7 linked regions of the Homo sapiens genome follow. The protein of the gene in region 1 purifies or fractionates together with the protein of each later gene. This does not show direct contact. Each region holds a gene or a part of one and is shown in the gene's direction. Other genes may lie near its edges. The genes, in order: SLC6A5, VKORC1L1, CHP1, TBC1D24, RAB35, ARL6IP5 and SURF4.

Region 1 (3,500 bases):
CAACTCACATCACTTATCTGTTGCTAATTATAGAGTGTCGGAAGGGTAGTTTTGCTGGTGGGAAAATAACAGCACTTAGTGTAAACCACAAGCGATTCTATTTTAAAAATATTTTTACCTGAACCCTTTAAGGGCTCAGACACATCTGAATACTTTTGTGCACCCACACAGGGCCAGCACAAGCTGAACTTTGTCTTTGCATATTCTGTACAGGCATATCTAACTCTAAAATTTCCAATTCAAAAACTACAAATGAGGGGGTGATTGTTGAAGGGGAACTGAATTTTCTCACCTTAAAGGAAAACTCTGCTTTTCCAGGATGTGTTAAGATTGCATAGCTAGGATTGAGTTTGATTGCACAAAACAGAAAGTCTCCACTTAATAGCAGGTAGGACGTGACACTATAAAGTCTGCAGCGGCATAGAGGTTGCTTTACTGAGATTGGGGCTACAGAGTTTCAGAAATTTAATAGCAGTTGTAATCTGCAGAAATGTCAGTTAAAAAGGGTTTTGATTTTGCATCCGTTGTTATATTTTTCTGTTGTAAATTATTATTTTCTGAGAGTGTATTGACCTAAAGGAAGGACTCTCCCTTCCGTTTAGCTTTACAGGAGAGAACATATGAGCATGGTATGTAGTGTAGTTTATTGAGTTCCTCACCTTTGATAGAGGAAGTTAAAATCTCCCAGGTAATTGACTATGCCTTTGGTTTCCAGCACAAGTGATTTATGTTCTCATTGATGTTGATGTCGGGGGTCATCTTGTCCCTGATGTTTCCCCTGGAAACATGATATGGCACTGGGTGTGTGACTCCTCTCCCCTGGCGCCAGTCTCCTTCATGGGTCTTGAATCTCTTTCCCTTTTGCCTCTCAGGTGTGGAAAGATGCTGCCACTCAGATTTTCTTCTCTTTATCTGCTGCATGGGGAGGCCTGATCACTCTCTCTTCTTACAACAAATTCCACAACAACTGCTACAGGTATGTAGAGGTACTACAAGATCTGGGCATAGCTGGTGAGTGGGACAGAAGAATGGACTGAGTTATCAGACACCTGAGGCCACATCCTCACATTTCATCTTAGGGAGAGCTAAAGATTTGCCTCTGGCCTAGGAGAAACCACCTGCTAAGGCCTAGGCACTATCTTCTGAAGGCCTGGACCCTCACTTACACACCTGGCTCTGACACATGGGGGAGGCTCAGTGGCTATTTACAGGATGGAAGCAAGTTTGTCTGCAGGTCACTGTGCAGTTGGCTGTGTTCTGTGACAGTCATTTGTGAGCTACCTAGTCTGTGGATACAATGGACTGTGCCTTCAGATGGTCTTCCCTCTGTGTGGGGCTGTGACCTAATCTCCTCTTCTTATAAAGACCCCAGTCATATCAGTCACATTGGATCAGGGACCACTCTAATGACTTCATTTAACTTAATTACCTCTTTAAAGGCCCTATCTCCAAATACAGTCACGTTATGAGATGCTAGTGATTAGGATGACAAAATATGAATTTGGTAGTGATAGGGGAGTGGTAGGAAGACACAATTCAGTTCAAAATGACCTTGAGTAACAGACTATGGTATTTAAACTTCATTAGTCACAACTGCTCATTAACCATTGACCCAAATCAGTCTGAACACCATTAAAGGGTGAAGCATTGCTATCTTCTTTATTAGAAATGAGGCTGTGGTGTGGCAGAAATAACCCAGGCTGAGAGCTTGAAAATCTAGATTCATATCCTGGCCCACACTATTAATTAGTCCATTACCTTTCCCTGGGCCTCAGTTTCCTCTTCAGTAAACTAAGGGGTCAGACAAGGTGGATCATTTGCTGCACACTTGCTCTGTGCTAGGCGGTGCATAGTACAGGTATCATCTCATTCTCTCCTGGCAACAGCCTATGACAGATAGACTCATTGCTGCCATTTCAAATCAGAGTGGAAAGGAAGTGGATTGCTCAAGGTCATGCCACTAAAAGGCAGGAGAACCAGGATTTCAGTGTAGCCCTGGGTTACAGTGTAGCCCGTCTAGCTGTGACCTCACATTTGAATCTAGGATGACTGAAGGTAGACTGGGAAACCCTGGCTATCTTACCAGCAGCAGGCTCTGCGATGAAGGTAGAGACACTGGGCTCTCTTCCCTCCCCTGCCCCTTTGTCCTTCTCAACCCTGTGTGTCCCAACTCCAGGCTACCCTCACATTTTAGGGTCATTTGACTTTCCCACTGCCTTCTCTTCCCTCACACATAGTTCCTGTCCTGGAGCCGACCAAGGCCCCATCTCCTCAATTTCTGTTCTGATGAACAGATTTACCTCTGCCCCTGGAATAATGTCTTAGTTTGTTCAGATTGTCTAACAAAATGCCATAGACTGAGTAATATTTTTTCTTTATACGTTTTTTGCTTTTATTATTTTTAAATGACACATAGTAATTATGCATATTTATGGAGTACAGTATGATATTTCGGTACATGTATACAATGTGTAATGATCAAATCAGGGTAATTAGCATATCTACTACCTCAAACATTTATCATTTCTTTGTGTTGAAAACACTGACAGTTCATTCTTCTAGCTGTTTGAAAACATAAAATAAATTGTTGTTAATATAGTCATCTCATAGTGCTGTAGGATGATTTTTTTTTTTTTTTTTGAGATGGAGTTTCGCTCTTGTTGCCCAGGCTGGAGTGCAATGGCCAATCTCAGCTCACTGCAACCTCCACCTCCCAGGTTCAAGCAATTCAAGTAGCTGGGATTGCGGGCATGTGCCACCATGCCCCGCTAATTTTTTTTTTTGTGTGTGTATTGGGTAGACACGGGGTTTCACCATGTTGGTGAGGCTGGTCTCGAACTCCTGACCTCAGGTGATCCACCTGCCTTGGCCTCCCAAAGTGCCGGGATTACAGGTATGAGCCACCGTGCCCGGCTGGGATGGTTGTTAATATAGTCATCCTATAGTGCTATAGAATACTAGAGTTTATTTCTCCTACCTAGCTATATTTTTGTATCTTTAACTGACTTTTGGCTATAAACAACAGAAATTTATTGCTCACTGCTCTAGGGGCTGGGAAGTCCAAGTTCAAGGTGCCAGAATATTCAGTGTCTGGAGGGCTGCTCTCTGTTTCAAAGATGGCACCTTGTTGCTGTGTCTTCATATGGTGGAAGAGGCAGACACATTCCCTTCAGCCTATTTTATAAGGGCACTAATCCCATGAGTTGGCTCTGTCTTCATGACTTAATCACTTTTCTAAAGCCTCCACCTCTTAATACTATCAAATTGTGGATTAAGTTTCAGCCAATGAATTTGAGATGGGGGGATTCAGACCACAGCAGATGAGTTGAGACCCATTTATATAGATCGTGGAGTCAGAGCTTTGGCCCACAGGCCCTGAATCAGGGCTATTAGGGGATATCGTCTGAGCCTTTTGGTGCTTTTTAAGTGAGCCCAAGGGAGCCTGTGGTTAGGACATGAACGTACACGTATATGCCTACACATGTGCAGACAAACATGTG
Region 2 (3,500 bases), on another chromosome or scaffold:
TATTTCTAAAGAAATATTTCACCGAAATTAGTAGGCTACAATAGAAATGCTGATTTTTCAATTCTACCATGTACAGCCAGTAAAAACAATAACACACCACTATCTCCTGTCACCATCATTTCATTTAACAAAAGGATATTTCCATTCAAACAATTTGAAAGAACAGAATCTCTCAGAATAAAATATTTTTAAATGGAATCATTTAGCTATATGGAAAAGTTTACTTTCAGACCAGCCTGGCCAACATGCTGAAACCCCGTCTCTACTAAAAATACAAAACAAGCTGGGCGTGGTAGCATGCACCTGTAATCCCAGCTACTCGGGAGGCTGAGGCAGGAGAATCACTTGAACCTGGGATGCAGAGGTTGCAGTAAGCCAAGATCGCGCCATTGCACTCCAGCCTGTGTGACAGAACGAGACTCTGTCTTTAAAAAAAAAAAAAAAAAGTTTACTTTCGTGTCCTTACTTTTTCCCATTTTCCCATAAATCGGTGAAAACTCTGCTGCAAACCTGCACCAGCCTGCCAGCTAACATTCAGTTAGCAGTCCCTGCCCCCTTGGTTTGGTACACTGAGCTCAAATCTAAGGGATCTGGGTGGGCTTCCACCTCTCCCAGTTCTTAGGCTTGTGGCCTTATCTTCATGGTGCCTCAGTTTCTTATGTTAAATAGGGCTTTTAACACCTACTTAGGGCCTGGTGCAGTGGCTCACACCTGTAATCCCAGCAGTTTGGGACGCTGACACCTGGCAGACCTCTTGAGCTCAGGAGTTTCAGACCAGCCTGGGCAACAGGGCAAAACCGTGTCTTTACAAAAAATACAAACGTTAACCGGGCATGGTGGCGCATGCCTGTATTTCCAGCTTCTTGGGAGGCTGAGGTGTGAGGATCACTTGAGCCTGAGAGGCTGAGGTCTGCAGTGAGCCATGATGGTGCCACTGCACTCCAGCCTGGGTGGTAGAGAGAGACCCTGTCTCAAAAAAAGAAAAACAAAAAAACCTACTTTGCCAGATTAGTGTTACGATGAAAAGTGATACATGTATGTTCCTGAAATAAAGCCTGTCCTCAGTTATAGCTGTTACCATTGATTGGAGATGTTCTTTTTTTTCCAGTGTTTGATAATAAATGCCTTTAAGTATAAGTTTCTTGTACATACTTGTTTATATGTTTAAACATTAATTGTTTTAATGTAGTTTATTGCTGACTTTATAGCATAGTATAAAGATGTGTTCATTTAAAACAATTTTGAAGTTGTGCAAGAGAAACTAATGCAGAATATTCTTTTTTTTTTTTTTGATGGAGTCTCGCTGCTCTGTCACCCGGACTGGAGTGCAGTGGCATGATCTCAGCTCACTGCAACCTCCACCTCCCGGGTTCAAGCGATTCTCCTACCTCAGCCTCCCAAGGAGCTGGGATTACAGGTGCCCACCACCATGCCCGGCTAATTTTTGTATTTTTAGTAGAGACAGGGTCTTGCCATGTTGGCCAGGCTGGTCTTAAACTCCTGACCTCAGGTGATCTGCCTGCCTCAGCCTCCGAAAGTGCTGAGATTATAGGCATCAGCCACCGTGTCCAGCTGTAATATGCAGAATATTCTATGTAGGTATTTTCTATATATAAGACCCCCTCTAAGAAGGGTTTCTATGTAAGAATAGTACAAATGATCTGGAAAGGTTAATAGGCTTGACAAATCTATGTTTCTTAAAACTGTAAAAATAGTCTGGTTGTCCTATGGTCTATGTATAGAACATATACCATAGGGGATTGGTTTCAGGACCCCTGTTTTTACTGAGATCCTGGCATACTCAAGTCCCCACTGTGGGCCCTGCAGAACCTGAATGTGAAAATTTGGGCCTCCATATATGCAGGTTTCGGTCTGCATTTGGTTGAAAAAGATCCACGTATAAGTGAGCACACACAGCTTAAACCCGTGTTGTTCAAGGGTCCACTGCATTTGAAAATCAAGTCCATAAAAAAGTTGCCTTATTTTACAAAATGTCGGATTACTACCTCTCCCATATCTTAAAAAAAAAGTACCATCTATTTACTACCCCATTGAGATAATAAAACTTTTAGAATTAGAATAGAACCTAGGGCTGGGCATAGTGGTTCACGCCTGTAATCCCAGCACTTTGGGAGGCTGAGGTGGGTGGATCACCTGAGTTCAGGAGTTTGAGACCAGCCTGGCCAATATGGTGAAACCCCTTGTCTACTAAAAATACAAAAAATTAGCCGGGCATGGTGGTGGGCACCTGTAATTCCAGCTACTCGGGAGGCTGAGGCAGGAGAATCACTTGAACCCGGGAGGTGGAGGTAGCAGTAAGCCGAGATTGTGCCACTGCCCTCCTGCCTGGGCAATAAGAGGGAAACTCTGTCTTACAAAAAAAAAAAAGAACCTAGAAGTATTTACTGCTCTTTGCTTTGTCTGAGACTCAGAGGTTAAGTGACTTGCCCAAGATAGCACAGGTAGTAGCAAATTGAGACTTGACACCTGGCTTCCAGAGTACTTATTTAAAGTCCCCTTTGCACCCCCATTTTAAAAATTAAATTCTTGGCTGGACGCAGTGGCTCACGCCTGTAATCTCAGCACTTTGGGAGGCCGAGGTGGGCGGATCACGAGGTCGGGAGATCAAGACCATCCTGGCTAACATGGTGAAACCCCGTCTCTACTAAAAATACAAAAAAAATTAGCCAGACATGGTGGCACACGCCTGTAGTCCCAGCTACTTGAGAGGGGCTGAGGCAGGAGAATCACTTGAACCCGGGAGGTGGAGGTTGTGGTGAGCTGAGGTCGTGCCACTGCACTCCAGACTGGGTGACAGAGTGAGACTCTGTCTCAAAAAAAAAGAAAAATTAAATTCTTGTCTAGGTAAGGCATTCGCTGCTTCGGATTTGAAAGATAACAAAGCATGTACAGTGAAAAGTCTCCTTCATATCCCTTCCACCAGACAGTTCTCCCGCTCAGTAGACCGCTGTGAAACTTTTCAGAGCCGTTTGACACATAGACAAACATCCACGTGACCATATGATTCCTCCCTTTTTTTAACATGGAAGTATCACGTATGCATCCTTATTGATAGCCTGCTTTTTGCTTGGCATTCGTTCCATTGCTCCCATACTTTAAATGCTTATGTTCATATTTAGTGAAATGTTAATAACTGCTAGTACGTAAAAGAGAATTTGTTCTAGTAGTTTTGACTAACCAAGATAAATTTCAGAAATAAAATTCTTAACATTATCATTGTTTCTTGGTATGGAAATTTCAGAAGCAGGTTGAACTGAAAAGAGTCCAAGAGGAATAGAGAAATATCACAAGGAAGTGAATCTGGACTGTAGTAGAGATAAATGTTAATACTTACAGATAATGCTTACTATGTGCTAGGCAGTGTTCTAAATGTTTTGCATACATTATTGAAGTCTCTCAAGAGTCCCATGAGGCAGGTAGCTTTTATCACCATTTTACACATGAGAAAACTGAGCAACGCAGACTAACACTTGATCCAG
Region 3 (3,060 bases), on another chromosome or scaffold:
TCCCCCAGGTTTTGGAGAAGGTGGATGTAGAACAGAAAATGAGCATCCGATTTCTTCACTAAAGGAGACCAAACTGTTCCTTGCGGTCTAGTATTTAAGAACTGGAACTTGAAAGTCCTCCTTCTACCAACTCCACCTCCACCCCCTCATTCCCCTTCTCCCAAAGTACTACTGCTGTTGCATGACAACCCCAAATATGTTCTGTCAACACAAACCTGCCTTTGGTGTATAAACAGGGCATTACAGAATGGTACACCCTATATATTTCTGTTCAGTATCCATTCACTAGTTCTTCATTTATAAATATCATCTTCCCCATTCTGCTGCTGAATGCCACACATCCATCCAGTCTGAGAAAGTGAGAGAGGCAATCATGCCAAGAACAAGCCAGCAAAGCTCTTTCACCAGATGTAGACTGTAGCCCTGCTGCCTTCCCTCCAGCGAGTCTGCCAGCATGCTTCTTCATCCTTTTTATATGTTCTTTGCTTCCTACTTCCCTGTCTTCCAACATACTGTTCACTTACTCTGGCAGTCTTTCTGCTTTTCATTAAGCCTCAAAATCTCCTCTGTTCTACTTGGCACCACAAGCTATGTCCTATATATGTATTTCTGACTTGGCAGGATAGTTCAGGGGTCTGGCAGTTTTTATTTACCTTCATTATTAAATGGGCCTCTGGGATGTTGCCTCTTCAGGAGCTTTTTGGTAATCAATACTTCTCTCAGAAGTATGAGACCATCCTCTGCACTCTGCTCTGTCATCAAAGGCTGCTGGGTGGAGATACCCTTTTTGAAAGGTGGCCTTGGTGAGAGGTATGGAGCCAAGTCTTCTAGGTTGCTTGCCCACATCACTCTATCTCTGGCCTCTGATTCTCAACTTTGTACCTGTGTGGCTCCTCTTGTTAGTGCAATGTTGACTGTTGAAAAAGCAGCAGTATGCTTACAGGTTTGCTTAGTTTGGGGACACCGTTACCACCAGAATGGCTGCTCTGACAATATGCCTAGGGACTTTCTCATGGCTTTTATTTAATAAGGAGGCTGGGCACCCTATAAAGCCTCATGCATTCACACCTTTGCAGCATGGTTTATGCCTCAGTGTTATGTGCACTGGAATGTTTTCCACTTCACATTTCCAAGTAGAAATATTAGTGTTACGGAAGTGCCTAATATCCCAGTCCAAATTTTTTTTTTTTTTTTTTTTTTTTTTTGAGACAGAGTCTTGCTCTGTCACCCAGGCTGGAGTGCAGTGGTGCGATCGCTCACTGCAACCTCAGCCTCCTGGATTTAAGTGATTCTCCTGCCTCAGCCTCCCAAGTAGCTGGGATTACAGGTGTGCACCACCATGCCCGGCTAATTTTTTGTATTTTTAGTGGAGACAGGGTTTCACCATGTTGGCCAGGCTGGTCTCGAACTCCTGACCTCGTGATCCGCCTGCCTCAGCCTCCCAAAGTGCTGGGATTACAGGTGTGAGCCACCACGCCTGGCCCCAGTCCAAAATATTTAAAGATTGTTTCCTTAGTGTCTTGAAGTTTTGCACAAAATTCTTTTTTTTGAGATGGAGTCTCACTCTGTCACCCAGGCTGGAGTGCAGTGGCGTGATCTTGGCTCACTGCAACCTCTGCCTCCTGGGTTCAAGCAATTCTCCCACCTCAGCCTCCCAAGTAGCTGGGATTACAGACGTGTGCCACCATACCTGGGTAATTTTTGCATTTTTAGTGGAGAGGGAGTTTCACCATGTTGGCCAGGTTGGTCTTGAACTCCTGACCTCAGGTGATCCTCCTGCCTCGGCCTCCCAAAGTGCTGGGATTACAGGCATGAGCCACCGTGCTCAGCCGCAAAATTCTTTATGAATTTTACACTTGGCAAATGTTAATGACGGAAGCCATAGTCTGCTCCTAATACATGTCCAAAGCATTGACTGTTGTGTCATTAGCTGCCTGGTTACATTAGCTCCCTGGCTTCTTGTTTAGACCACTGCTAATCCCTTAAAAACAAGAGGTCTGGCACTAGTAGCACAACCTAAGGTGGCATTACAGATCTTTGAGCGAGCCACAGCAACTTTTCTGCCAAGTCAGCTTAGTTTAGACTTCAGTGAATCAGGCTATTGCTATCCTAATGTATGTCTCTATGAGTGTATTTAGCCACACATCTGCCCTTGGTTGACTTTCTGACTCATTGCTTGCTTGCTTGTTTCCTTGCTTTGGAAAACTATTGAAGATTGCTAAAAAATACCACTGCAAAGTGATGGAAAAGGGTGGAGAACAGGGGAGTAGCCAGGCTGGATGGCTCAAATATAAATGAATGAGGAATTCTTTATGAAGTATCAGTCAGATTTTATGATTAAGTGATGTAATATAGGAATTATGTAAAAGGGAAGAATGTCTGATACTGATCTATTAGAGAGGTACTTTAGAGGCTTCTTGATTGGCATAAAGTTCCTAAGGTTATAGATTTTCCCCCCTTTTGGCTGTATAGCAAAGTGTTTTAATCCACGGTTGTGCCTTATTGTTCCATTAAAATTGTATCTTCGATCCATCAATAAATACTTGTGGTTGAAACAAAATAACTTTTGTCCATTTTACAAGAATTTTATGTAACTTAGTCCCTTCAAGTTTGAAATCACAGTGTCTCCCTTACTCAAGTTTATGTCTGTACGGTCAGCTGCAGTCTACTCTGCTGCTGCCTGGATATATGAAGTGGAAACATTCATCGAGGGGCCAGCACTTTTGGCTTCGACATGGTTTTGTCAGCCGTGGCCACTTCCCATTCATTCCAGCTAAGACGCAATTTCTATTCTTGACTCCCTGACTCCTTAAATGTAGAAAAAGCCTAAAAATCCAGTATATGTCCATTCCTTAAATTGCCCACCTCCTCATTCATGTGCAGCCTCAGCGGTGACATACTCTGGTTTTACATGGCTTTTTCTTTGCATTTCTTTTTTGAGATGGAGTCTCACTCTTGCCCAGGCTGGAGTGTAATGGCACAGTCTTGGCTCACTGCAACCTCCGCCTCCCAGGTTCAAGCAATTCTCCTGCCTCAGCCTCCTGAGTAGCTGGGATTACA
Region 4 (3,500 bases), on another chromosome or scaffold:
GGCACACCCAGAGAGACATCAGCACAGAAAAGAGCAAGACTCAGCCAGGCCCGGGGGCTCACACCTGCAAGCCCAGCATTTTGGGAGGCCAAAGCGGGAGGAACACTTGAGCCCAGGAGTTGCAGGCTGCAGTGAGCTATGATTGTTCCACTGCACTCCACCCTGGTCAACTCTGTTTCAGAAGAAAAAAGAGAGCAAGACTCTGAGACAAGTGGTTGCAGGATGGGAAGAGCCAGGGAGGAAGGAGGGGATGTTCCAGTATTGAGCAGCGGGCAGTGCCACACCCCATGCAGAGTGTGGAGGGAGGGGGCGGGCTGGCACCGTGTGGAGATGGCGATGAGGTTACTGCGAGACTGGGCAGTAAGCATATGTGTTTTGGCCTGGAGCCAAGGAGAGTGTACTAGACGAGAGCATTTTGGGGATGCTGTGTGCCATCCAAGCTGGGGACTGGGTTGGGTCTTCCCAGGAGAATGTGCAGAGTGAGAAAAACGAGACGGAATCCTGAACCCTGTGGACTCCTAATACAGTCTTAAAGTCAGTAAGGTAACAGAAGGCCAGTCAGTAACCCGTTGCCTTTTGGGGGAATGGGGCAGGGTAGTGGGCTTTTTTCTTTTTTTTTTTGTTGAGACAGGGTCTCGCTCTTTCTCCTAGTCTGGAGTGCAGTGTCAGGATCAGTGGCTCACTGTAGCCTCGACCTTCTGGACTCAAGCGATCCCCTTGCCTCAGCTTCCCAAATAGCTGGGACGATAGACTTTTTTCTTTTTTTTTTTTTTTCGAGACAGGGTCTCATTCCCACTGCCGAGGCTAGAGTACAATGGAGGGATCATGAGATCATGGCTCACTGCAGCCTCGACCTCTCGGACTCAAGCAGTCTTCCCACCTTAGTCTCCTGAGTAGCTGGGACTATAGGCGCACACCACCATGCCTAGCTAATTTTTGCATTTTTTATAGAGACGGGGTCTCACTTTGTTGCCCAGGCTGGTCTCAAATTCCTGGACTCAAGCAGTTCTCCCACTTTGGCCTCCCAAAGGCTGGGATTACAGGCATGAGCTACGGTGCCTGGCCTGGCCTTTTAATTTGTCTCTTGGAGTGAAGGATGGAGTATGGGACGGGGGGGATGCCAGTGTCCTTGCAGTGGCCTTCCTGTCTCACGTGTCTATTTGCCTTTTGGGGAACCTCCAGCTTCAGTGTCGCTCTTCTCAAAGGACCTAGTTCACCTGCAGTCTGAGGGTTGCTCGTCTCAGACGTTCCCACAGGTAGGGCTCTGAGAAAAGCCTTCTCAGACCGAGAGACCCAAGGCTGCAGAGCCCTCAGGGGCACCTCACTCTCCTTCCAGGACCCTGTTTCTGTGTGGTCCATCAGCATTGGCAGCAGGTACAACTTTGGAAAAAGTCTGCTGAGAACAGAGGCCACGTGTGTGATGCGTCCCCCACCCCCTGAGTCCTCCACCTGAGGGGTGGAATGGATGAGGCCGGGGAAAGGCTGTGCTGCAGAAGCAGCCCCTATCTGCCCGTGGCCAGCACGTGGTCCCCCAGGGCTGGCTGAGCCTCTGGATAAGGCTTGAGCTGTTATCTACACCCTCCAACAGAACCTGCTCACAGGGGCGCAGGCTTCATGGCCTCCGAGGACTGTGCATATGCAGCCATGGCTTCCTGCAACCCTCCCCAGTGTGTTCCCTTCTTTTTTTCTTTTCTCTTTTTGTTAATTGTTTTTTTTTTCTTTTGAGATGGAGTTTTGCTCTTGTTGCCCAGGCTGGAGTGCAGTGGTGCAATCTTGGCTCACCACAACCTCCGCCTCCCGGGTTCAAGCGATTCTTCTGCCTCATCCTCCCTAGTAGTTGGGATTACAGGCGTGTGCCACCATGCCCAGTTAATTTTGTATTTTCAGTAGAGACGGGGTTTCACCATGTTGGCCTGGCTGCTCTCGAACTCCCGACCTCATGATCCGCCTGCCTCGGCCTCCTAAAGTGCTGAGATTACAGGTGTGAGCCACCGTGCCTGGTCGTTAATTGTTTTTTTTTAAGAGACTGGGTCTTGCTCTGTTGTCCAGGCTGGAGTGCGATGGTGCAGTCACGGCTCACTGCAGCCTCAACCTCCTGGGCTCAAGCCATCCTCCCACCTCGGCCTTCTGAGTGGCTGGGACTACAGGTTCTTGCCACCACACCTTCCTGATTTTTTATTTTTTTGTAGAGACAGTATCTTACTATGTTGCCCAGGCTGGTCTTGAACTCCTGGCTCAAGGGATCATTTCACCTCAACCTTCCAAAGTGCTGGGATTACAGGCATGAACCACTACACCGGCCTGTTCCCTTTTTCTTGCAGGTCATTGAGAACACACCACAGGGGACCTGGGAATCTACTGAGGATACAGATTTCCCACAATCCGAGACTGTGTGTCTGCCTGATTGTTACATAATTTTAATTGGGTGCCACACACCGAGAGAGGTTGTTTACTGGTGGGCCATTCGGTTTCCAGTAAAAGCCCTTCCACTCACTGTGGCATGGTAAATGGAGCTCATCACATGGTCCCTTCAGCCTTTCCTTGAATCATTTCCACCCCTTCCCTAATTACCCTCTGTGATCCCTTTCCCGGCAAGGGTCCTTCTAGCCTTGCTACCTTGGTAAACCTGTGGCCTTAGGATCGAGGTGTGGACATTAACTTTTCTGCTCTGGCGGCTTCCTGGGCTGTCCTCTCCATGTTCCCAGCACTCAGGGGCACTGTCCTTTCCTGGCAGCCTAGTAAATCCCAGGCCTCTGTTTTGGGCCCTTTGGCTTCTTGGTGCCTGTTATGCTGAAGCGTAGAAGTGTCTTAGTCAGAGCCCCAAAGGACACTCACCGGCCCACGTTCTCATGGAGCTGGGTAGCTCTGACCAGACTTGCCCTCTGGGGCCCTGTCCTTTGACCACGCTGTCTCTATCCCTTCTGAGGCTAAGGCTTCCTCACACTGCAAGATCCAGCCGAGGCAGGCCTTGGCGCTGGGAAAGCACCGTGTCACAGCACCTGCACCTTGAATTGGCATCGTCAGTACACCTGACCCGGGCTGGGGTGGGGCCATGCCTCTGTACTCCTCTGCACTCAGGTACCTGGCACACTGGCATTCGGGAAGCATGTCTTGAATGCCTATTAAAATGATTAGGACCGGGCGTGGTGGCTCACGCTTGTAATCCCAACACTTTGAGAAGGCAAGGTGGGAAGATTGCTTGAGGCCAGGAGTTTGAGACCAGCCTGGGCAGCATAGTGAGACTTTGTCTCTACCAGACATAAAAAGTAAATAAAAATAAAATGATTAAACATGCACAACTCCACCTCGAGCTGGATCTCTCCTTAGGTCTAAAGACACTTGCTGAGAACCTGATGTGTGCCTGGCCTTCCAAGGCACACCTGTCACTGGCTTGGAACTCAGACCAATCAAAATGCCTGTGCTGCTGACAGCTGAGCTCTCTTCCTCTGGTTCTCCTCCTGTGTCCTGGGGGTGTTTTTCCAGACCTGCTGTGGGGAGAA
Region 5 (3,500 bases), on another chromosome or scaffold:
AAATCTGCACTTTGTTTCAGGGGGTTTCATAGCTTTCGTGGCATTTTCATTAAAAATCTAACAGGAGTGAGATGTTGGAGCCCCCACAGGTCATTTTTTCCAAACTTCCTGAACCAGACGCAAGACTCCCAGCAATGTGTATTGGGAGGAGTGTTAGCACTCTGGAGGAGTCCGGCCTGGATGCAGATCTCAGCTTTACTGCTGCTCACAGAGGCACTTAGGCCGGCCACTCTGGGCCTGAGGTTCCTCATCTCAAGAGATGTGGCCAGAATTATAATCAAAGAGGCATCCAAGGGCTCACCACACACACAGCCCGATGCATGTGAATTCTTTGTGGTCAATTAACTTGGCTGGCCTCAGGGGTGTTGGAGATTGGGGACAGGATAGGAGGACATGGAACAGGTGTACTTGGCAGGCTGAAAGCACTGTGAGTTGAAGTCAAGGGGAGAGGTCCAGGCGCAGTGGCTCATGCCTGTAATCCCAGCGCTTTGGGAGGCCCAGGCGGGAGGGTTGCTTGAGGCCAGAAGTTTGAGACCAACTTGGGCAACATAGCAAGACCTCGTCTCTACAAAAGATTAAAAAAAAAAAAAAAAAAAGCCTGGGCAACGTAGCCAGACTCTGTCCCTACTAAAAATAAAAAAATTAGCTGGGCATGATGGTATGCACATGTGGTCCCAGCTACTCGGGAGGCTGAGGTCAGAGGATCACTTGAGCCTAGGAGTTGGAGGCTGTGGTGAGACATGATTGCACCATTGTACTCCAGCCTGAGTGACTGAATGAAACCCCATTTTTTTTTTTTTGAGACAGAGTTTCGCTCTTGTTGCCCAGGCTGGAGTGCAGTGGCATGATCTCAGCTCACTGCAACCTCCGCCTCCCGGGTTCAAGTGCTTCTCCTGCCTCAGTCTCCCGAGTAGCTGGGATTACAGGCATGTGCCACCACGCCCAGCTAATTTTGTATTTTTAGTAGAGACGGGGTTTCTCCATATTGGTCAGGCTGGTCTTGAACTCCCGACCTCAGGTGATCCGCCTGCCTCGGCCTCCCAAAGTGCTGGGATTACAGGCATGAGCCACCGCGCCTGGCCTGAAACCCCATTTCTTTACAAAAAAAGTGGGGGAGGCCAGATGTGTACATGTTTGTGCTCTAAGCAGCCAGGAGCTGCTGTGGCTGGTGCATGGTCTGAGCACATGTGGGCTGCTGCCCTGATGGGTATAAGGCAGACCCTCCACTCCACCAGCCCACCCGGCGGGGACATCAGCCAGAAAGATGGTAGCCATTGAGTTCTAGCTATGTGGGCCTTGGTTTCCTCACCTGCAAAATAGCCCTGATGATCTCAAGGGTCCTTTCCCGCTCTACAGCTCTTCATTTTGGGCGGCTCCCTAACTGATGTGCTACAACGTGCTGTGCACTTTTCTAGGGACCATGTTGTAGACGCACTTGGGGGCCGTTTCGTGTGGTTGACCTTCATTCTGCTTTGTCGTCTGGCATCTCCCTTTGGGCCAGCCCTCAGCCTAGGGCCTGGGCACCAGTCCCTTTCTCATCTCTCCCCCAGGGGATTTGGGAGCAGCTTGTCTTACACAAGGACGAAGGAAAAGGTCAGGGATCGAGTGGAAGAGATGTTCTTGGTGTGTGGCCGCTCAGGGAGGTGGAAAGAGCATTGAGAAGTGAGCTGGGTCCCACCGAGCTTCTTAAGAGTTGGGACTGAGGCATCCTCTCCCGGAAGAAGGGCTGGGGCTGCGGGGAGGGGACCCACCTGCCCCCCTCATCGCAGTGCTTTCTCTCTTGCAGGTGTGGGCAAGAGCAGTTTACTGTTGCGTTTTGCAGACAACACTTTCTCAGGTGAGTCCTCCCCTGCAGTGCTGCTGGGGTGTCGTTTTTGTTTGTTTGTTGACATCCCCTCCCTGGCACCAAACAGAGTTGCCTCTGCCTGATGTTGGGAACTGTCTCATTCTGGTTGCCAGAGGAGGGAAGAAGATGGAGTGGGGCTTAGGACCTTGTGGCGCTTCTGTCAGAAGCCTCTGTGGTCTGTCTAATGCACCTGCTCACGAAAACCCTTTGGCTGGCCCATCATTTTCCCACCCATGGTCCAAACAGGAAGGTTCCCATAACAGCGTCTATGGTGCCACCCGGGACACAGTCCCTGCTCCTGCCCCCTATGCCTCCCTGGCAGCCTGTGGTCAGCGTGTGTCTTTCTGATTTCTTTCTGCGCTCCACATGCAGGCCTTTGTGGTTCATCTGAGTGCGGTGGGCTTTCTGTGCTTGAAGGCACCACATGGTGCACTGACGCTGCTGTTACATCGTGCCTGACTTCTGGTTGTGTTTTCAGCGATGCTTAGCTACTTGGGATATAGGCGATATTTATTCTTTTTTTTTTTTTTTTTTTTTTTTTGAGATGGAGTCTTGCTCTGTCACCCAGGCTGGAGTGCAGTGGCGCGATTTCGGCTCACTGCAACCTCTGCCTCCTGGGTTCAAGCAATTCTCCTGTCTCAACCTCCCAAGTAGTTGGGACTATAGGCACCTGCCACCACGCCCGACTAATTTTTATATTTTTAATAGAGATGGGGTTTCACCATGTTGGTCAGGCTGGTCTCGAACGTCTGACCTCAGGTGATCCACCCACCTTGGCCTTCCAAAGTGCTGGGATTACAGGCGTGAGCCACTGCGCCCAGCTGATACTTATTCTTGTGCACGTGTTTCTGTAGAAGTGGGGTTACTGGCTTACAGGGTGTATGCACTGAGAATTTTCATAGGTACTGCCAACCTGCTTTTCAAAGAAGCTGGAGTCATTTAATCCAGTCCCACTGAAGGGTGGAAAGTGCCCCTTGTCAACCCTGGTCAGTGCTGGATCTTAGTAGCTGTCTTCATTCTTGCTGAGCTGATAGGCAAAAAGGGCTAACTTGTTTACATTTGTATTTCCCTAATCACTGGTAAGATGGAACACATTTTTGTTTGTTAAATACATCAGGTTCAGCCGGGTGCGGTGGCTCACACCTGTAATCCCAGCACTTTGGGAGGCCGAGGCGGGTGGATCATGAGGTCAGGAGTTCGAGACCAGCCTGACCAACATGGTGAAACCCCGTCTCTACTAAAAATACAAAAATTAGCTGGGCGTGGTGGTGCATACCTATAATCCTAGCGACTGGGGAGGCTGAGGCAGGAGAGTTGCTTGAATCCGGGAGAGGGAGGTTGCAGTGAGCTGAGATGGCACCACTGCACTCCAGCCTGAACGACAGAGCGAGACTCCATCTCAAAAAACAACAAAAAAAATCAGGTTCATTACAGATGCTTTGGGTGGGGTTGACATCTCTGATTATCTTGTGGAGAATTCCCTCTGACATGGCTGGGCTGCCTTTAGAAAGTGATTCCGTTGGCCAGGCGCGGTGGCTCACGCCTGTAATCCTAGCACTTTGGGAGGCCGAGGCGCGTGGATCATGAGGTCAGGAGATTGAGACCATCCTGGCCAATATGGTGAAACTCTGTCTCTACTAAAAATAAAAAAATG
Region 6 (3,500 bases), on another chromosome or scaffold:
GTTTTACCATGTAGGCCAGGCTGGTCTTGAACTCCTGACCTCAGGTGATCTGCCCGCCTCAGCCTCCCAAAGTGCTGGGATTACAGACATGAGCCACCATGCCCAGCCCAGGCCCAGCTAATTTTTGTATTTTTAGTAGAGGTGGGGTTTCACCACGTTGGCCAGGCTGGTCTCAAACTCCTGACTTCAAAAGATCCACCCACCTTGGCCCCCACAAAGTGCTGGGATTACAGGCTTGAGCCACTGTACTCAGCCTAGAAACTTCTACTTCTGAGCTATCTAACTTATATGATAAATCTACCTAACAGACAATGCATTATGTATTACAATTGCTTTTACCCACTCAATATATAATGTCTTCCCATATTATTAAATGCACTTCAATGTTTTAAAAATAGCTGTGTATACAATACCACAGCTATTGGTATTGTTGGCCATATAGGTCGTTTCTGAAAGTTTTTAATCATAAATACCACTAATATCAATACTGTTACAACTCAATCTTTGCGTTTTTGTTTAATTCCTTAGACTATATTCTGAGGAGGGGATTTATTGGCTTGAAGGATACAAGTATTTGCAAGGATTTTGAATGAAATTAGCAACTTATTATTGTAGAGTTTAGTTTTAAATTATGTACAACTGGCTGGGTGCGGTGGCTCATGCCTGTAATAGCACTTTGGGAGGCTGAGGGGCGGGGGGGGTGGGGGGTGGATCACATGAGGTCAGGAGTTCGAGACCAGCCTGGCCAACATGGTGAAACCCCGTCTTTACTAAAAATACAAAAATTAGCTGGGCATGTTGGCGGGTGCCTGTAATCCCAGCTAGTAGGGAGGCTGAGGCAGGAGAATTGCTTGAACCTGGGAGGCAGAGGTTGCAGTGAGCCGAGATCGCGCCATTGTACTCCAGCCTGGGCAATGAGTGAAACTCCATCTCAAAAAAACAAACAAAAAAAAATTATATGCAACTACTCTTACCACTGTTTAGCTTTGTGCATCTTAATAGAAATTTTTAGCTTTTTCAAAGCAGTTTGACATTGATTTTATCCCTTAATTTCACCCATTCAGGTGTGAAAAGCTTTTACTCTTAATTTTAAAATGTTCAAAATTCCTTTTATGTTTCAGTAGGCAGAAACAGAGCTAAAATTTAAAGGGATTTTTGAAAAAGAATTGTATTTATCCTGAATACGAATCCCAATATGAGCATGAGTTCTTCATCTCTTCCATTTCAGAGAAAGTAAGCTCTTGGCATCACCCTCCCTTATCCTGTCTTCCCCCTTCCCTCATTTCAAATCAGCAATGTTACTATTCAGGGCATGAGGAGAACACACTATCGTCTGTGTCCTTCCCAAGTAAAGTCCTCATTAGCCTCTAGGGTAAAAAGTTAAGTAACTCATTGTACCAGCCCACCACAGACGTCTTGTTAAGGGTTTTGTATACACAGTGGATTGGGGTGGGCGACTATAATGCCCAAAACTTTGTCTAAATTTCTTCTTCTTATTATCATTATTGAGACAGAGTTTTGCTCTTGTTGCCCAGGCTGGAGTGCAATGGCGTGATCTCAGCTCACTGCAACCTCCACCTTCTGAGTTCAAGTGATTCTCCTGCCTCAGCCTCCCAAGTAGCTGGGATTACAGGCATGTACCACCACGCCCAGCTAATTTTTGTATTTTTAGTAGAGATGAGGTGCCACCATGTTGGCCAGGCTGGCCTTGAACTCTTGACCTCAGGTGATCCACCCACCTAGGCCTCCCAAAGTGCTAGGATTACAGGTGTGTGCCACCATGCCTGGCATAAATTTCTTCTACATAATGTGTTTCCTCCATTATCAATAGTAGTGTAATTGCTATTACATACTAAACATTTGGCTTATATAAGAATGAATCTGGAACTGTGTGCTTGAAAATCTGCATTGGTAACTCATCTCCTAATGATACTTTGGGCATTTTAAAACACTTATAATGAACTCTCTATGTGAGGAGTCATAAACTCAAATGCCTCCATGGGGCAGGCAGGTTATGTAAGAGAGCGATTCAGGCCAGCTATTAGAAAAACAATGATTAGACTGGGCATGGTGTGGCTCATGCCTGTAATCCTAGCACTTTGGGAGGCCGAGCTGGGCAGATCACTTGACGCCAGGAGTTCAAGACCAGCCTGGCCAACATGGCAAAATCCCACCTGTACTGAAAATACAAAAAATTAGCTGGGCGTGGTGGCATGTACCTGTAATCCCAGTTACTCGGGAGGCTGAGGCACAAGAATTGCTTGAACCCAGGAGGCAGAGGTTGCAGTGAGCCAAGATTGCGCCACTGCACTCCAGCCTGGGTGACAGAGCAAGACTCTGTCTCAAATAAAAAAAAAAAAAAAAGAAAAACAGTGATTAATAGCACCTCACTTTGGGCCTATGTGTCCATGATGCAGTAGAGAGCAGTGTGGACTGGAGCTCAATGGAGACTGTTTATTCTGTCTGAATGAGAAGGCACTCAAGCCAGCTGTTGACATGTGGGAAAGTGGGCCTAGCACTGTTATTTTCTTGTTCCAGGAGAACAAGAAATCCCAAGTTTTCTGGATTTTTTTTTAACACATGGGTTTCAAGTAAAAGTTTTTTAAAACACTGTACAGGCCAAACAAAAATGTGACTGTATACTGGATCTAGCCCATGGAGGCCATTATGTGGCCTGTATTCTACATTCGTCCATCATGAGCTTCTCTGAGGATTTAAATAAACCTTTAGAGCTAAGAAAACACAACCTACTGTGTACTAGAGCCCAGGATGTAAGGAAGCTAAACATAGTACCTTCAAAAGAAGTTTTAGTCTTCAAAATTGTGGACCTCTAACGAGATACTTTGATGGGAACTGCCTGGGTGTGATCTCAGCTCCACCTTTTTTTTTTTTTTTTTTTTTAATGAGATAAGGTCTCACTCTGTCACCCAGCCAGGAGTGCAGTGGGGGAATCTTGGCTCACTGGAGACTCAACCTCCCAGGTTCAAGTGATCCTCCCACCTCAGCCTCCTGAGTAGCTGGGAACACAGGTGTGTGCCACCACACCTGGCTAATTTTCATATTTTTGTAGAGATGGGTTTTGCCATGTTGCCTGGGTTGGTCTTGAACCCCTGGGCTCAAGTGATCCTCCCACCTTGGCCTCTGAAAGTGCTGGGATTATAGGTGTGAACTACCATTCCTGGCCTTCCCCACCATTTTCTAACCTCTGTGCCTTAGCTTCTTCATTTGAGAAATGAACTAATAGTATCTCCTTTATAAGGTTATGAGAAATCAAATGAGACAATTTAGATAAAGTATTAAAGTATTAGTAAGTTCTCAATAATTGTTTTTACTCCTCTTTCTCCTTTTGCTACTTCTATTGCTGAACTAGTCACCCCTCATTTTTTCTTCCTCATATTTCAGGTTTCTGAGTCCCTTCAACATGATCCTGGGAGGAATCGTGGTGGTGCTGGTGTTCACAGGGTTTGTGTGGGCAGCCCACAATAAAGACGTCCTTCGCC
Region 7 (2,549 bases), on another chromosome or scaffold:
AGAAGAAGAAGGAGTGGTAACAGTCACAGATCCCTACCTGCCTGGCTAAGACCCGTGGCCGTCAAGGACTGGTTCGGGGTGGATTCAACAAAACTGCCAGCTTTTATGTATCCTCTTCCCTTCCCCTCCCTTGGTAAAGGCACAGATGTTTTGAGAACTTTATTTGCAGAGACACCTGAGAATCGATGGCTCAGTCTGCTCTGGAGCCACAGTCTGGCGTCTGACCCTTCAGTGCAGGCCAGCCTGGCAGCTGGAAGCCTCCCCCACGCCGAGGCTTTGGAGTGAACAGCCCGCTTGGCTGTGGCATCTCAGTCCTATTTTTGAGTTTTTTTGTGGGGGTACAGGAGGGGGCCTTCAAGCTGTACTGTGAGCAGACGCATTGGTATTATCATTCAAAGCAGTCTCCCTCTTATTTGTAAGTTTACATTTTTAGCGGAAACTACTAAATTATTTTGGGTGGTTCAGCCAAACCTCAAAACAGTTAATCTCCCTGGTTTAAAATCACACCAGTGGCTTTGATGTTGTTTCTGCCCCGCATTGTATTTTATAGGAATAGTGAAAACATTTAGGGACACCCAAAGAATGATGCAGTATTAAAGGGGTGGTAGAAGCTGCTGTTTATGATAAAAGTCATCGGTCAGAAAATCAGCTTGGATTGGTGCCAAGTGTTTTATTGGGTAACACCCTGGGAGTTTTAGTAGCTTGAGGCAAGGTGGAGGGGCAAGAAGTCCTTGGGGAAGCTGCTGGTCTGGGTGCTGCTGGCCTCCAAGCTGGCAGTGGGAAGGGCTAGTGAGACCACACAGGGGTAGCCCCAGCAGCAGCACCCTGCAAGCCAGCCTGGCCAGCTGCTCAGACCAGCTTGCAGAGCCGCAGCCGCTGTGGGCAGGGGGTGTGGCAGGAGCTCCCAGCACTGGAGACCCACGGACTCAACCCAGTTACCTCACATGGGGCCTTTTCTGAGCAAGGTCTCGAAAGCGCAGGCCGCCCTGGCTGAGCAGCACCGCCCTTTCCCAGCTGCACTCGCCCTGTGGACAGCCCCGACACACCACTTTCCTGAGGCTGTCGCTCACTCAGATTGTCCGTTTGCTATGCCGAATGCAGCCAAAATTCCTTTTTACAATTTGTGATGCCTTACCGATTTGATCTTAATCCTGTATTTAAAGTTTTCTAACACTGCCTTATACTGTGTTTCTCTTTTTGGGGGAGCTTAACTGCTTGTTGCTCCCTGTCGTCTGCACCATAGTAAATGCCACAAGGGTAGTCGAACACCTCTCTGGCCCCTAGACCTATCTGGGGACAGGCTGGCTCAGCCTGTCTCCAGGGCTGCTGCGGCCCAGCCCCGAGCCTGCCTCCCTCTTGGCCTCTCATCCATTGGCTCTGCAGGGCAGGGGTGAGGCAGGTTTCTGCTCATAAGTGCTTTTGGAAGTCACCTACCTTTTTAACACAGCCGAACTAGTCCCAACGCGTTTGCAAATATTCCCCTGGTAGCCTACTTCCTTACCCCCGAATATTGGTAAGATCGAGCAATGGCTTCAGGACATGGGTTCTCTTCTCCTGTGATCATTCAAGTGCTCACTGCATGAAGACTGGCTTGTCTCAGTGTTTCAACCTCACCAGGGCTGTCTCTTGGTCCACACCTCGCTCCCTGTTAGTGCCGTATGACAGCCCCCATCAAATGACCTTGGCCAAGTCACGGTTTCTCTGTGGTCAAGGTTGGTTGGCTGATTGGTGGAAAGTAGGGTGGACCAAAGGAGGCCACGTGAGCAGTCAGCACCAGTTCTGCACCAGCAGCGCCTCCGTCCTAGTGGGTGTTCCTGTTTCTCCTGGCCCTGGGTGGGCTAGGGCCTGATTCGGGAAGATGCCTTTGCAGGGAGGGGAGGATAAGTGGGATCTACCAATTGATTCTGGCAAAACAATTTCTAAGATTTTTTTGCTTTATGTGGGAAACAGATCTAAATCTCATTTTATGCTGTATTTTATATCTTAGTTGTGTTTGAAAACGTTTTGATTTTTGGAAACACATCAAAATAAATAATGGCGTTTGTTGTATGCAGTGTGATCCTATAGCGTTGCCCAGCCTGAATGGGGCTCCCCTCAGGATGCCAGTGAGCGAGGTTACTTCTCTAGGCTTCTCTGAAGACCACTCAGAAGCCATGTCCAGAGAGAATTAGTCCCTCAGAGTCCCTGCTGCTTCCTGGGTGTGGGGGACAGACTCCCTCAGCCCTGCCTTAGAGGGCAGCAGATGTCATGAGACAAGGATAAGTGGGTAGAGAAGACACTGGGGACAGCCGATCATTCAGAGGACACACGGTTTGATCAGGAGCGGGGGAAATATCTGAAGGCTTTCTCGAAACTTCACGGCATGTGCTTTTATTAACCTGGCTGTTTACAGGAGCTGAAGCTCTTGGGTTTGCGGTGATGACTCTTGAACTTCTTTTTCAACGAGCCCAACTGCTTCTGTGGGATAAACAAAATTCTGATTACTGAGCCTTTCTGATCCCATGGAGAAGGGGCCCTGGAGTGCAGGGCTCTCCCCACCCACACAGCCT

The links.
Region 2: the proteins of SLC6A5 (region 1) and VKORC1L1 purify together in Homo sapiens (affinity purification with mass spectrometry; one large-scale study listed by BioGRID and IntAct). This does not show direct contact.
Region 3: the proteins of SLC6A5 (region 1) and CHP1 purify together in Homo sapiens (affinity purification with mass spectrometry; one large-scale study listed by BioGRID and IntAct). This does not show direct contact.
Region 4: the proteins of SLC6A5 (region 1) and TBC1D24 purify together in Homo sapiens (affinity purification with mass spectrometry; one large-scale study listed by BioGRID and IntAct). This does not show direct contact.
Region 5: the proteins of SLC6A5 (region 1) and RAB35 purify together in Homo sapiens (affinity purification with mass spectrometry; one large-scale study listed by BioGRID and IntAct). This does not show direct contact.
Region 6: the proteins of SLC6A5 (region 1) and ARL6IP5 purify together in Homo sapiens (affinity purification with mass spectrometry; one large-scale study listed by BioGRID and IntAct). This does not show direct contact.
Region 7: the proteins of SLC6A5 (region 1) and SURF4 purify together in Homo sapiens (affinity purification with mass spectrometry; one large-scale study listed by BioGRID and IntAct). This does not show direct contact.

Annotation. Positions count from the first base shown.
Region 1 is NC_000011.10:20,627,108-20,630,607, forward strand, and holds part of SLC6A5 (sodium- and chloride-dependent glycine transporter 2), read left to right. Parts: intron 1-872; coding exon 873-976; intron 977-3,500.
Region 2 is NC_000007.14:65,876,074-65,879,573, forward strand, and holds part of VKORC1L1 (vitamin K epoxide reductase complex subunit 1-like protein 1), read left to right. Parts: intron 1-3,500. UniProt on the Homo sapiens protein: Involved in vitamin K metabolism. Can reduce inactive vitamin K 2,3-epoxide to active vitamin K, and may contribute to vitamin K-mediated protection against oxidative stress.
Region 3 is NC_000015.10:41,279,328-41,282,387, forward strand, and holds the end of CHP1 (calcineurin B homologous protein 1), read left to right. Parts: intron 1-8; coding exon 9-62; 3' UTR 63-2,560; downstream 2,561-3,060. UniProt on the Homo sapiens protein: Calcium-binding protein involved in different processes such as regulation of vesicular trafficking, plasma membrane Na(+)/H(+) exchanger and gene transcription. Involved in the constitutive exocytic membrane traffic.
Region 4 is NC_000016.10:2,478,127-2,481,626, forward strand, and holds part of TBC1D24 (TBC1 domain family member 24), read left to right. Parts: intron 1-3,500. UniProt on the Homo sapiens protein: May act as a GTPase-activating protein for Rab family protein(s). Involved in neuronal projections development, probably through a negative modulation of ARF6 function. Involved in the regulation of synaptic vesicle trafficking.
Region 5 is NC_000012.12:120,106,754-120,110,253, reverse strand, and holds part of RAB35 (ras-related protein Rab-35), read left to right. Parts: intron 1-1,786; coding exon 1,787-1,837; intron 1,838-3,500. UniProt on the Homo sapiens protein: The small GTPases Rab are key regulators of intracellular membrane trafficking, from the formation of transport vesicles to their fusion with membranes.
Region 6 is NC_000003.12:69,098,437-69,101,936, forward strand, and holds part of ARL6IP5 (PRA1 family protein 3), read left to right. Parts: intron 1-3,402; coding exon 3,403-3,500. UniProt on the Homo sapiens protein: Regulates intracellular concentrations of taurine and glutamate. Negatively modulates SLC1A1/EAAC1 glutamate transport activity by decreasing its affinity for glutamate in a PKC activity-dependent manner.
Region 7 is NC_000009.12:133,360,964-133,363,512, reverse strand, and holds the end of SURF4 (surfeit locus protein 4), read left to right. Parts: coding exon 1-20; 3' UTR 21-37; coding exon of another isoform or gene 38-49; 3' UTR 50-2,049; downstream 2,050-2,549. Other genes in the region: SURF2 (surfeit locus protein 2), read right to left, coding at 2,374-2,457. UniProt on the Homo sapiens protein: Endoplasmic reticulum cargo receptor that mediates the export of lipoproteins by recruiting cargos into COPII vesicles to facilitate their secretion.